Linked DNA regions of Homo sapiens. Each later gene encodes a partner of the first gene's protein in a complex. Each region holds a gene or a part of one and is shown on either strand. Other genes may lie near its edges.

Region 1 (7,055 bases):
CCTAAGTTTATGAAGCCCTCTATGGGACAGGTTCAGACTAATCCCTGTAAAGTGAGCACTCCAGATGTTTCCTTTGTTGCCATTTATCAACTTGATAAACAAGGATTGTTGGATGACTACAACAATGAAGGGACAGAGAGGTCAAGGTGATTCACAGGTTTCTAAACTGGTGAGTGGATATGGTTCCACTCACCAAAATTGAGAATACAGGTTGCTAATTCTAAATACAGACTCACTTTATCTTGGCACAAGTTAATGTGTAAAATAAAAGTTTCCTGGGGATGGGAGGAGTATGAAGTTGTTGCTTAATGGGCATAGAGTTTCAGTTTTGCAAGATGAAAGGAGTTCTAGGCCAGGCCCGTTGGGTCACACCTGTAATCCCAGCGCTTTGGGAGGCCGAGGTGCATGGGTCACTTGAGGTCAGGAGTTCAAGACTAGCCTGGCCAACATGGTGAAACCCCGTCTCTCCTAAGAATACATACAAAAAAGTAGCCAGGCGTGGTGGCAGGTGCCTGTAATCCCAGCTACTTGGGAGGCTGAGGCAGGAGAATTGCTTGAACCCGGGAGGCAGAGGTTGCAGTGAGCCAAGATAGCACCATTGCATTCCAGCCTAGGCAACAAGAGCAAAACTCCATTTCAAAAAAAAAAAAGAAGAGAAAAAGAAAAGAATTCTGAAGATTGGTAGATTGGTTACATAACAATTTGAATGTACTTCTGAACTGCATACTTTAAAATGGTTAAGATGGTAAATTTCATGTTATATATGTTTTACCACAATAAAAATTGAATGAAAGGTTTTCCTTTCCTAGCTTACCCATGTCCACCCATTGTTCAAATTGGAGCTTTCTCTCTTAGCTTCTGTGATGAGTGAAAAGGTGCTCCCCAAAGATATTTTAAAATACTAATATAAGGAATATTATTTCACTCATTCATTTTCAGAGGGAGCTCAAGAAGTTGTCAAGTGAATGAATTAATTAGTTCAACAAATATTTATCAGTTTTCCTACCTTGAACCTGGGATGTTCTAAGTCCTTTGTTCTCAAAGTGTGGTCTCCAGATCAGCAACACTAGCATCACCAGGGAATTTGTTAGTAATATACATTCCTGTGGGGCACGGTGGTTCATGCCCGTAATCCCAGCACTTTGCGAGGCCGAGATGTGCAGGTTGCTTGAGTCCAGGAGTTTGAGACCAGCTTGGGCAACATGGTGACACCCCGTCTCTACAAAATAAAAAATTAGCTGGGCATGGTGGTGCACACCTGTAGTCCCAGCCACTTGGGAGGCTGAGGTGGAAGGGTTGCTTGAGCCTGGGAGGTTGAGGCTGCAGTGAGCTGTGATCATGCCACTGCACTCAGGGAGAAAAAGAAAAAAAGGAAAGAAAGAAGTATACATCTCTGGACCCCACTTCAGACATACTGAATCAGAAACTTTGGCACTAGGACCCAACAATAGCTGTTTTTACCAGCCTTTCAGATTATTCTGATGCATGCTCAAGTTTAAGAAAGACAATTCTAGGTTGCAATGATACAGAGGCCAAGAAAACAAAACGCCTGTTCTCTTGGAGCAACAACAGACAAATAGATATAAATAAAATTTCAGGCAAAGGAAAGTGTTATCAGGGAAACCAGCATAGGATAAGGAGGCAGAACACAGAGGATGCTCAGGCAGGGTCTTTCTGAGGGGTATGAGCTCTGAAGTCACATAGAGTCTGAAAATTGGCTCCACCAGTTTCTAGCCTTTTAAAAGTCTGGTTTCCTCATCTTCTAAGAAAGAGATAATAATATTACAAGTTTACTCTGAAGATTAAATAAGATAACACTTATAAAATCCTTGCAACTGTTTCTGCCACTGAGTAAGGCTTCAATAAACGTTAGCCCTCCATATATGATGGGGAGTGCCATAGATGTATACCTGGGAATCGTTGATGTAGAAATTAATAGTAAATGGATGAAAAGGTGGATAAACCAAGACACAAAAAGAGAAGAGGATGGATGATGGGCTCTTGTTGGTGGGGACAGAAGTGGATTGAGAGATGGTGGGGAAGTAAAGAAATGAAGATGTGGAGAGGGAGCTTTTTTCTGAACCCAGCTAAAGGTGGAAACTTGGAAGAGGAGGCCAGTGGATTGGGTGAAGAACCAACCATTTGGTATACCTGTGACTGAGGAGGTTCTCAGGATGCAGGACTTTTAGTGCTAAAACTAGGAAAGTCCTGGGCAAGCTGGGCCAAGCTGGCCACACTGGCAGTGGATATGACCATGGAGGGTGAAGTGAGCAATAAATACTCTGACCTTTCTTTCCTGGTGGCCTCTCATCTCCTTACAGTAACCTTATAAGGTGTCTTTACAGGGGCCTGACCCAACCAGAAGGGCAAGGGAGCTGGGATAATACAGTCTAGAGAGGTCAGCCTTGCCTTGACACACACCAGGGTAAAGGAAGGACAGAGAATTGACCTGGAGAGGCAAAAAATAATGGCCAGCACAGTGGCAAAACTGGGATTAGAATTGTCTGGGATAGGCCAGGTGCGGTGACTCACACCTGTAATCCCAGCACTTTGGGAGGCTGAGACGGGCGGATCACGAGGTCAGGAGTTCAAGATCAGCCTGGCCAAAATGGTGAAATCTTGTCTCTACTAAAGTTACAAAAAATTATCTGAGCGTGGTGGCACATGCCTATAATCCTAGCTACTCAGGAGGCTGAGGCAGGAGAATCGCTTGAACCCGGGAGGCGGAGGTTGCAGTGAGCCGAGATCACGCCATTGCACCCAGCCATGGTGACAGGGAGAGACTCTGTCTCAACAAAAAAAAAAAAAAAAAAAAAAGAACTGTGTCTGGGATAAACCTGATTTCAGAGCTTCAATTCTTTTTCCAGCCTTGTTTAAAGGTAGAATGCCCTCTAGGAGTGATGAGTGCTTTCTACATCCTCAAATTAACTCTACAGAGAATTATAAAGATTATCCAACCATATTCTTTGGTATCTGAGCAGCCCACAAAACTTTTTTCTTTAGAGACAAGGTCTCCCTCTATCGCCTACGCTGAAGTGCAGTGGTGCGATCATAACTCACTCTAACCTCAAACTCCTGGACTCAAGCCATCCTCCCACCTCGGCCTCCCAAAGCGTTGAGATTACAAGCGTGAGCCATGGAGCCCGGCCCTCTTTAAAAAATAAAAGTGGGCCGGGCACAGTGGCTCACGCCTGTGAGGGGTATGAGGCCTCCCAGCACTTTGGGAGGCCGAGGCGAGGATCATTTGAGATCAGGAGTTCGAGACCAGCCTGGCCAACATGGTGAAACCCCGTCTCTACTAAAAATACAAAAATTAGCCAGGGGTTGGTGGCGGGTGCCTGTAATCCTAGCTACTCAGGAGGCTGAGGCACGAGAATCGCTTGAACCCGGGAGGCGGAGGTTGCAGTGAGCCGAGATCGCGCCACTGCATTTCATCCTGGCTAACAGAGGGAGACTCCATCTCAAAAAAAAAAAAAGTGTGTGTGTATACACATACATGTGTATGTGTATATATGTGTATGTATATATGTGTGTACATATGTGTGTGTGTGTGTATATATATATATATATATATATATATATATATATATATATATTCAGTGGTAAGTGTCATGTACAAGAGGCACACAGGATCTAGCTGCTCCAGAAATGAAGTCAGTGGAGAAAATCCCCACGGGAACCTTGGAATTCCTCTAAAAAGTTCAGGTACAGGACACTCCCAGGTGCCCAGGAACCGTTTCCCAGCTCACTTCCCCCCGAAAGACTCACCCCTCCAATCGCACTCGATGCTTTGGCAAGTGTCAAAGGTCAAAGACCACGGCTCGCCTGGTACCGACTGCCCCGCCCCCGTGCACCTCCAGCTCCCCCAGGCTCCGCTACCAGCAGCTGCGACCCGCCAACTCAGCCTGGGTAATAGGAGATTGGGCGGCCAGAGGCGCTGCGTGATTGGTGGGTCGGAAGGGGGCGGGGACTCGCTGGAAAGCCCCCTCTGGATTGGTGCAAACCATCTGGGTGGGACCTCCACTCTGGCTGGGCGGGAAAGCAAGAACAGCACTGCTGGGCTGGAGACGGCGGGAGCCGCTGCTCTCCGGCTGAGGGAATCAGAGACAGCTCCGTCCCTAGTGGAGCGCAGGGGAGGCAGAAGTCATGACAGGCGAGGTGGGTTCTGAGGTGAGTTTATGCACACGCCCCCCACGGGGGCTTAGAAGGCCGGGCACCGAGAGGTTAGGTGGGGCCGGGGTAGACCCCGCTGACCCGAGGCGCCCGGGCGGGAGGACTGCGGCTCCCGGCGTTCGCCGCGCCGGCTCCCGCGGCCTCGAGACTCGGCCGGGATGGGTTCCGACCGGGCATCCCGTCCCGCCGCCGGGCTTCCCGCGCTTCGGGCTCCGTGGCCGGAGAGCTCCAGGTCTCTGCGGCGCGCACTGCCGGCAGCCCAGCCCCTCTTCAGCCGGTTCCTGCCGCCAGCCCTCCCCTTTGGCGCGTTTCCTGTCGCGGAAGCTCCTCCCCTCAGGGTGCTCTGAAAGCCGGGAGGCTCTAGCCGAACCCGGCCGCAGCGGTGCGGGGGGATTCTCCGCAGAGAGAGGGCGAGCGAGGGTGTTAGGGAGTTCCACACTGGGCCTGGGAGGGGCCCTGGAGGTCATCGCGCGCAGGCCCTTTGCGTTTTCCGACCGGGCCCCGAGTGGGGAAGTCACCGCTGGGGCTCCTGGCTGGTGGCTGGCAGCTCCCTGGCGAAATTGGGCATAGAAAACAGATGTTTCCAGAGCTGTGTCCTTTCTGGGCCGGATTCGGGCAAGGCACTCCCGCCTTAGGAGCAAAATTTAAAGGGGCGCCAAAACCCTCAATCAAACTCATATTTTAATGCAATATTTTTAAAAAACCAAAATTAATGCAAAAACTTTTTATGATTTGATATTGAACAAAATATCAGACGTTTAAACAAAGACGAGATCCGACCAGTCATTTGCACGACCTTGCCTCAATCACCTCACCCTAATTCCATCCCTGTTTCCAATAAACTTTATTTACAAAAGCGGGCATATTATTTACCTCATGAGCTGTAGATTATTGATTTAATTTTTTAAAAAATATTGCATTAATGTTATTCATTTTGATTACTGAATTTTTTGAGACCTCACCCCACCCTGTTACTGGCCCTGCCCTTTGACGTTGCTGCAAATTGCCTAGAAGATAATCGTCATTCAAAGCAGCCCTATTCCTTGAGCTGTCTGGTTACCTAAATTCGGTTTCCACACTCACAAACAGAAGTAATAGTTTTACTGCTTTGGATTGTTGAGAGGATCATCAGTGCATACATATTAATTCTCAGCAATCCCAGCACTTCGGGAGGCTAAGGCCGGCAGATTGCTTGAGCTCAAGAGTTCGAAACCAGCCTGCATAGAAAACATGGCAAAACCCCGCCTCTACAAAAAAAAAAAAATTAGCCGGGCGTCGCCTGTGGTCCCAGCTACTCGGTCCCAGCTACTCGGGTGGCTGAGGTGAGAGAATCCTTTGGGCCTGGGAGGTCAAGGCTGCAGTGAGCCATGATCCTGCCACTGCACTCCAGCCTAGGTGACAGAGTGAGACACTGTATCAAAAAAAAAAAAAATTTGTACCTTGCATTCAAATCAATTTAATAATTTTTTTTTTTTTGAGACGGAGTCTCGCTCTGTTGCCCAGACTGGAGTGCAGTGGCACAATCTCGGCTCACTGCAACTTCTGTCTCCTGGATTCAAGCGATTCTCCTGCCCCAGCCTCCTGAGCAGCTGGGACTACAGGCACACACCACCACGCCCAGCTAATTTTTGTATTTTTAGTAGATACGGGGTTTTACTGTATTGGCCAGGCTAGTCTCGAACTCCTGACCTTGTGATCCACCCACCTCGGCCTCCCAAAGTGCTGGGATTACAGGCGTGAGCCACCATGCCTGACCAATTTAATAATTTTTTGAGAAACCACTCAGCTGAGGCCTTGTGCCCTGTTACATTACTGATGTTCATATTTCTCCCTTTATTAATAAGTTGATTCAGAGCCCTGAGAACACTAAGGAGGTAGACTTGGCATCTAGGGTTAGCTTTAAGGTCACTAACTGATCAAGTCACCTAACACACCCCTCCTCCTTAGGTTTTTATTTGCGACTTTTTAAACTGTCTTATTTAGAAATTTTCAAACCTATACAACCGTAGAAAGGATGGTATAATGAACCCATCACCTTACTTCAACTACAGTTTGAATATCTCTCGTCTGAAATGCTTGGGACCAGAAGCGTTTTGAATTTCAGATTCATTTTGGATTTTGGAATATTCGCATACACATAATGAGATATCTTGGGGGAGGGACCCAAGTCTAAACATGAAATTCAGTTATATTTCATATATACCTTACACACATAGTCTGAAGGTAATTTTATACAGCATTTTAAAATAATTTCGTGCATGAAGCAAAGGTTTTACTGCAGCTCATCATATGAGGTCAGGTGTGGAATTTTCATCTAGTGGCATCATGTCAGTGCTCAAATATTTTGGAATTGGGAGCATTTCAGATTTTCAGGTTAGAGATGTTCAACCTGTATTTTCAAGTCATGGCCAATCTTGTTTTATTCATACAGCTACCCATTTTTCCTCTCACAGGATTATTTGGAAGAAAATCCAAGATATCATATTATTTGAACCACAAAGATTTTAGTGTGCATATCTAACAAACAAGAGCTTTCCAAAAATAGATACTACGATATTATTACCACACCTAAGAAGTATCTAGTCAGTGTTCAGATTTCTTTGACTCAGAGATATTTCATTTATTTTTATATGCCACTTTAGCATAATTATTTACATTTTTAGTTTTTTGAATCATCATCCGAAGTTGGCATTTTGTAATTGTTTATATTATATATGTGTATATATGCATATATGTATGTATTTTAAGATATACATACATATATAAAGCATACATTTATGTATATAGAAATATACAGGGCCGGTTGTGGTGGCTTACGCTTGTAATTCCAGCATTTTGGGAGGCTGAGGCAGGCGGATCACCTGAGGTCAAAAGTTCGAGAC
Region 2 (7,624 bases), on another chromosome or scaffold:
GTAGATCAGTAATATTGGTCCTCACAGAGGTATTCCAAAAGGCTAAGCAGAGAGAATCTAGTCTCTAGTCAGTGCTTGTGTATTCACAGCCCTAAACCAGGCTGCAGAACCCAACATAATCCTGCCCACTCTGGGTGAATCCATTTTAGTAGAAAATTTCTCCAAAGTTGATCTGATTGTAAATATTAAACTGACATCTTTATGTTGCAGGTAAAGGACCTGGATAATCGAGGCTTGTCAAGGACATAAATGTCACGTCCAGCTCTGATATGCTTCGCACTGAGCACATCACATTTAGGACGTTGAAGATTTTTTTTTTTTTTTTTTTTTAATATGCAGTTTGTAAGAACAAAACTGGATGGCATCAGAATTGTCTGGAAGTTTTGTCTTGGGCAGTATGGGCTGGGCCAAATGAAATGATTTTTATAATTCTAAACAGGTTACCAAATGAAATGTCATGGCTTTACTTTGGTCAATTAAAGGGGGGAATTTTTTTAAAAAATGTGCCTTATTTGTTTTGACTTATAACTGATTTGAGGGAGGCAAAAGCTATGCTAGGCTGCCAGAAGGACATAAGCAGACCTTGTCCATTCTCTTAGCTCCCTAAATTAGCCAAATAGAGACTTCTTTCTCAAATCAGGAAAACTATCAAAGACCAATTCAGATCCTACATTTACAGACAGTTTTGTCATAACCCTTTGCATTGCAGCACCTAGTACAATTCCTTGGAAACAGCGTGGCTCAATAAATTTTTATTGAATGAATAAATGTGGGACCAGAAGAGTGCTAGAAGAGTGCCTTTCTGGGCTACTATGTCTCTGTTCTCAATGTCTTTTATCCTTAGACGCTCTTTGACTTTATAAATCAGCAGTTTTGAAGACTCAAGACAAACAGTGAAATTATTGGTTTATCAATGGAGAGGAAGAAACTCTTCCAGCATTACATATAGAGCTTGATGGTCAGTAGGTGTTTTTGAATCAGCTTAAATATAATCATACATATCAATTTGAAATGGAGCTTTTCAGTACTCTCACTTATTCATGACACAGGAATGACCCTTTACTCAAAACTCTTGTGGTTGTTCAAAGGTGAGCTTCTTTTTCCCTTAGTCTTAGCCTATGTGTTGCTGTTGTATATTGTTACCAAGTTCAACTACCTAATTTTGAAGCTCTTTCCAAATAAGATACAAATTAAAAGGGGAAGCATTGCCAGTAACAGGTCCCTAGAGAGCAGTGCCAGCCTGCCTGCAAGAAAAGAGGAGAAACTTCTTAAAAAGTTTTAAGCCTGGGCAACATAAGGAGATTGTTTCTATGAAAAATAAAAATTAGCCAGGTATGGTGGTGTACACCTGTAGTCCCAGCTACTCGGGAAGATGAGATTGGAGGATCACTTGGGCCTGGGAGGTTGAGGCTACAGTGAACTGTGATTGTGCCACTGTACTCCAGTCTGGGCGACAGTGAAATCTTGTCTAAACAAAAACAATTTAACTGGGAAGCACAGTGGTCCTTGAGGACATTTAATATCAGGACAAAGAGCCTATGAATATATCACTGATGTATATAAACCCTAAGGCGTTAATAAAAGCTAACTGTTTAGTGTTATCCATTTAAGGGAACAGGAGGAATTGCATAACTTTTAGATTAGTCATAGTGGTGCTCCTAAGGGATATGCTGTTGTATATTTGTATAGCCAGGGCACTTAGCCTTCCAAACCAATTTATATACCATGTTCTTCAACTGTGGGTGAGATTTAGCCTCAAGATTTGATTTACTATATGTAAGTACATTACTTGATTTCTATAAAGAATCTTTAGTGGAAGAGGTTATTCTGAATTATTTATCAATATGATTAATACCAGTTAGAAATTATTAATGATCTTCCTTTATACTATACATAGGATAACTTTTAACTTGTCGCTACAGTTGTTGCTCTGAGGATCTTAATTTTGTTACTTTCTAGGCTACATGAAGCTATCTTTTTAAAAAGTGTACTCTTCATTTTCACTGTTATTGTGTACTTAGCATAAAAAACTCAAATCTAGGCCAGGTGCAGTGGCTCATGCCTGTAATCCCAGCACTTTGGGAGGCTGAAGCATGCGGATCACTTGAGCCCAGGAGTTCAAGACCAGCCTGGGCAACATGGCTAATGAACACTAAGCATAGTTTTGATGTCTTTCATATTAAAGACTTTCTCAAATTCTTGCTAGTCTGCTCCTCTTTAAGAGTGGGACCCTAGGCAGGGCGCAGTGGATCATGCCTGTAATCCCAGCACTTTGGGAGGCCGAGGCAGGCAGATCACTTGAGGCCAGGAGTTTGAGACCGGCCTGGCAACGTGGGAAAACTCTGTCTCTACTAAAAATACAAAAATTAGCTGGGTGTGGGGTACACACCCTGTAATCTCAGCTACTGGGGAGGCTGAGGCATGAGAATTGCCCAGGAGGTGGAGGTTGCAGTGAGCAGACATCATGCCACTGCACTCCAACCTGGGAGACAGAGCAAGACTGTCTCAAAAAAAAAAAAAAAAAAAAAAAAGAGTGGGACCCAAAAAAGCTGATTGAAAGGTCTGTTTGTAGGGGGTGTAGATGGGGATTAATAATGTGGGTTTCAATCTACTGTGATCTGGCTGGGCTGTTACATTGGGAAATCCATGATACTGATTTTTAGATTTTTATCTTTTGCATAGGTAAGATTCCCTTGAGAAGGCTTGCATATTCTCTTACTCAAGGATGTAAGCCAGGCAGTCAGCTTTCTGGGAGTAGAGTAGGGAAAGAAGTTGTAACAGGCTCAACCTTCAGTGGATAAAACTTAAACTTAATCCCTCCGTTTTCAGTAAGGTGCCCAAGCTTTTAACTGTGCCTAATGGTCTCCAGTTCACATACTGTGCATTTACCCTCTTAAATCTCGTACCAGCTTTGGGGAGGGACAGTTCCTTGGTTACATAGAAAGGGAAGGGATACGGGGATCTATTTGTTTTTTATGTAGCCTTTAAACCTACCCCTTTTAGCCCCATTTTTACCTCCACCTTCAGTTACCTGGTGTCACCAGTTCAACTTGAGCTTTTTCAGAGTTCTGTGATGTTAATTCTGCTTTCCATTGCTAGCTTTGGGATTCATCTTCATTACCTTTCATCTAAAGGCTTTCTGCTTTCCAAAATGTGTCTCATACTCTGTTCTTATGGGTTCTTTTAAATATTGGTATCCTTTACTATTAAAATATTTTAGTGGGCTTTCAGAAGAGAATAGAGGCTATTTCTATGTATTCTGTCTTTAACTGGTATTCTGCTGGAGTCTGTATATCTTTTTTTTTTTTTTTTTCAGGCTAAAAAGACTCCATCAGACACACAGGAAATTTGCAGGTCTTCCTCTTCGTATTCTTTGTTTTCAGCACACAGTGAGGAAACAAGAGAAAATGGGATAAATGATATAAAAACTTGCTTTTATTTTTATACCAGGCCCTGTGGCTCGCTTCTGTAATCCCAGTGACTTGGGATGCTGAGGTAGGAGGATCACTTGAGCTCAGGAGTTCCAGGCTGCAGTGAGCTAAGACTGCCCAATTGCACTCCAGCCTGGGTGACAGAGCAACACACCCTGTCTCCAAAAACAACAAACTGTAAAAAGATTACATGAAGCCTAATCTGTGATGTCATGATTCAAAACTATACACATAAGCATTTTAAGAGTTTTTTCCTTGATTTTTGTTCCTGACTTTGCTTCTTTAAAAGAAATGTGTGTTTTTGTTGTTGGTTGTTTGTTTTTGAGACGGAGTCTTGCTCTGTTGCCCAGGCTGGAGTGCAGTGGCACAATCTCTGCTCACTGCAGCCTCTGCCTCCTGGGTAGCTGGGATTACAGGCACTCGCCATCGTGCCCGGCTAATTTTTGTATTTTTAGTAGAGACGGGGGTTTCACCATGTTGGCCAGGCTGGTCTTGAACTGCTGACCTCAGGTGATCCATACGCCTCAGCTTCCCAAAGTGTTGGGATTACACGTGTGAGCCACCAGGCCCCGGCCTTGAGTAACATTTTATACTTGTTTCACTTTACTATTATCATAATAGCCAGTTATGCTTAGTGTTTGTATGTGGCCCAGTCTTAAGGACTAAGAAAATATATATGTATATATATAAAATATATACATATAAAAAAATATGTTTTTTTCCTACGGAATCATGCTGTTGCCCAGGCTGGAGTGCAGTAGTGCTCACTAACCTCTAACTCCTGGACTCAAACGATTGTTCTGCTTAGGCCTCCCAAGTAGCTAGGGCTACAGGGACACACCACCAAGCCCGACTAATTCCTAAATTTTTTTATTTGTAGAGATGGGGTCTCCCTATGTTCCCCAGGCTGGTCCTGAACTCCTGGCCTCAAGCCATTCTCCTGCCTCGCCTTCCCAAAGTGCTGGAATTACAGGCAGGAGCCACTGCGCCCGGCCAGTGCTGGAGAATGTAATGGAGATGATCCTGCCTATCCCTGAGTTCCAGTCTAGTTTACTGTCAGAGAATACTTATTTCCATTTTTCCTATTTTGTTCTTGAGTCTCTTTCCTCAGAATTTACTTTTCCACTTAAATGACGTACGCAGCTTTTAAATTTGCGTTGTAAGATTTATTTTGGCTCTCCCCGCCTGTTCTTTGCACATTAAAAATGAAAAAGTTTGTAGAACTAAGCTAAGCAGATGGTCTTCCTGCAAAAAGACCGGGCTGAAGTAAAGCATTGTTTTGGAGCTGGTTCACAGAAAAAAGGCAAAACTGGTTATCCTGACTTCAAGCTCCAACATAAACTGCTCGCTTTCTCCGGGAAACTTGCCCCGCCACACACACTTGACTGCGTGGCCAGTTCTTTCGAAGCCTCTCGCTCCCAACACGGAGTTCCTCCCATTTCTTCACAGTCGGCTCTCAGCAGCTGCTGCTGGTTTCTCGGCTCCAGCACCACGAGTACCGCACTCTGAGGTTTACAAAGCACTCTGCTTCACCGACTGTGATCCTCACAGTCCTGTCCGGTGGCCTCACGCAGGTGGCGGTGCAGCCTTTCAGGCCCAGAGCGGCCAGGAGCGAAGCCCGCAGCCCCGCCTGGAAGCGCAGCGCGGTCGGTCGCGCGCCCCTGAGGCTTGGAGGCCTGGGCTTCCCCCAGCAGCGCTCGAGCACCGCCCAGTCGAGCCTCACACCGGATGCCACTTCATATTTGGGCCCAGAGCTCAATTCGCGCCGATGCGGTCCGCCGTCCTTAAATCTCTTCAGCCAGGATCTCTCCCCGACTGCAAAGCAGCCCTGGGCGGGAGCGGCAACATCTCCACGTCACCCTTTTGGAGCCGCCGACATTCAGAGGGGCAGGACACGGGAACGCGCGCTGTCTTGCTTTACGGCGCGGGTGCGCGAGTTTGCGGCAGCGTGACGCCCTCAAGTTTTGGCGGGAAAAGCGCTGCATTTGGATTCCTGCAGTGGTGGGCAAAGGACAGTCCGGTGAGGAAGGGCGGCCGGTAGAGTAGGGAAGGTTTCTAAAGAAGGAGTTCGGGGTCTAGATTAGTGAGGGAGGGCATGGTGGGAGAAAGTTAGCATTGACTAGCGCAGGGGATTGGAGAGACTCCTGCGGAGGGGCGGTTTCGGAGGGTGGAGGAATGGTACCAGGAGGTTCCCGTTGTGGGGGCGGGGGCAGGAGGGACTAACCCGCTGCTAGCTAAGAACCCCAAGGAAGAGTCCCAGCCCTTCCTTTCGCCTCTGGGGGCAGTTTGGCCCCGCCCCGGCCTTTGGGACGGGTGGGGCTGTGGATGGGGATGGGAATTGGAATTGAGCAATTGGGAGGAGGCGCTGCCGCAGGCGTTTTCTGCCCCATACCGCTCCCTATATCCTCTTCCTCTCTTCCCCAGACCCCCACCTCTCCCTCCTCCTTCCCCAGTCGTTCGCCGGAAAGCATTTGTCTCCCACCTCTTCATAACAACAATTAATTTCCTCTGGGGCCTGAGGAGGGCAGAATTTCAACCTTCGGTGTGCTTGGGAGTGGCGATTGTGATTTACACGACAAAATGGTCAGGTTTAGAATAGTTGTTCGTGGTTGAAAGACTTGGATAAATGTGGATGAGATAGAAGGGGAAGGCAAGAGCTGTTAATTTTCGTGGGCAATCCTGGGGAGAGGCGGGGCTCAGTGGCTTCACTGGTGATCTTACACTCTACATCTTTTCTGGATTCCTGCCTTTTACAGCCGAGGTGCTCGGTGGAGTCATGGCAGTGCCCTTTGTGGAAGACTGGGACTTGGTGCAAACCCTGGGAGAAGGTGCCTATGGAGAGTGAGTTCTTTTAAGCTTGCCTTCGTTTTCTGAGTGCATATTCATTGTTTTGGAGTCTCACACTCTGGTGATTTAGAAAGTAGATGTTTGAGATCCAAGGGTTTTGGCAACTGAAGTTACACAGCCTTTTGCTAGGATTAAAAATTTTTTCCTTCCCTTTAAAAAAAAAAGTTTTCTTTGTAGAGAGCTGGAAGGGACACGAAGTTATTGTTTCCATGCCCACAAATTGCTTCTCAGGGTTTAAGCATTGCGGTTAATGAGCAAATGAGCAGACTCTGGAGATTGCCTGCCTGGTTTCAGATCCTTGCTCTATCACATACTGGTCATTGTTTTGTGATCTTAGGCAAGCTTCTTAATGTCATTGTGTACCTCTCCTTCACTACCTTTAGGGTGGCAATAATCGCATCTACCCCATAGGAGCTTAGGACAGTCAGTTACACAAGCACATATAGTATGGGATTAATGCTCTTAAAAGTATATGAGTAGAACATGTATATATGTGATGTGGCTTAGAATTATCTCAATCTATTTTATGAAGCGTTTATTAAATGACTTGTGTGACAGCATAATGACGTCTTTGGAGGGTTAGCTATTGTATTTCACATTTTAGAAAAGAGTAGTGTGTGTTGAGAACATAGCAGAAACCACTTCCTTGGTTTCTCCTTTGTGGAAAAAGTAATAGAGGTAAAATCGTTTTGGATGAGTCATGTTTAATCTTTGGAAGTTTTAGAAGAAATGGAATTCTGTAATGTTAAAACTCTTTTCCTTTTTAGAGTTCAACTTGCTGTGAATAGAGTAACTGAAGAAGCAGTCGCAGTGAAGATTGTAGATATGAAGCGTGCCGTAGACTGTCCAGAAAATATTAAGAAAGAGATCTGTATCAATAAAATGCTAAATCATGAAAATGTAGTAAAATTCTATGGTCACAGGAGAGAAGGCAATATCCAATATTTATTTCTGGAGTACTGTAGTGGAGGAGAGCTTTTTGACAGAATAGGTATGGAAGAAATTTAAGATAATTATTTTAAACAAGTTTTTAAATTTGTTTTTTAAATCTTGGGCATGCTATTTGGTCGTTGTCCTTTCAAAATTGCTCATGCAACTGTGAAATTGGAATACATTATCTTTAAAAAATTTTTCCACCTGGTGTTAATAACATAAAAGCATATATAGAGTCAATGAAAGAAAACTTCTTTCCCAAGTTATATAAGTGATTTTGATTTAAGATTGGTGTCTTACAGAATTTAAGAGTGACAAACAAGTTTTATGGTACATCATAAATGCAGTGTATCCTAAATGCAATGTATTGCCTACACAATTTTTTCTTTGTAGACATTCTAGTTACATGAAAT

Evidence for each region. The genes of interacting proteins can lie anywhere in the genome.
Region 2: the proteins of CLSPN (region 1) and CHEK1 are in contact, whole or in part, in a crystal structure (PDB 7AKO), measured with the Homo sapiens proteins. Residues at the interface, in NP_071394.2 of Homo sapiens: Glu938, Leu940, Leu941, Leu943, Cys944, Ser945, Gly946; in NP_001107593.1 of Homo sapiens: Lys53, Lys54, Cys57, Met61, Arg129, Thr153, Val154, Phe155, Arg156, Tyr157, Asn158, Arg160, Glu161, Arg162.

Annotation. Positions count from the first base shown.
Region 1 is NC_000001.11:35,766,962-35,774,016, reverse strand, and holds the start of CLSPN (claspin), read left to right. Parts: upstream 1-4,038; 5' UTR 4,039-4,146; coding exon 4,147-4,170; intron 4,171-7,055.
Region 2 is NC_000011.10:125,620,562-125,628,185, forward strand, and holds the start of CHEK1 (serine/threonine-protein kinase Chk1), read left to right. Parts: upstream 1-4,601; 5' UTR 4,602-5,199; coding exon of another isoform or gene 5,200-5,451; exon of another isoform or gene 5,452-6,011; coding exon of another isoform or gene 6,012-6,014; exon of another isoform or gene 6,015-6,081; intron 6,082-6,187; coding exon of another isoform or gene 6,188-6,207; coding exon 6,208-6,272; intron 6,273-7,045; coding exon 7,046-7,269; intron 7,270-7,624. Other genes in the region: dolichyl-diphosphooligosaccharide--protein glycosyltransferase subunit STT3A, read left to right, coding at 211-249. UniProt on the Homo sapiens protein: Serine/threonine-protein kinase which is required for checkpoint-mediated cell cycle arrest and activation of DNA repair in response to the presence of DNA damage or unreplicated DNA.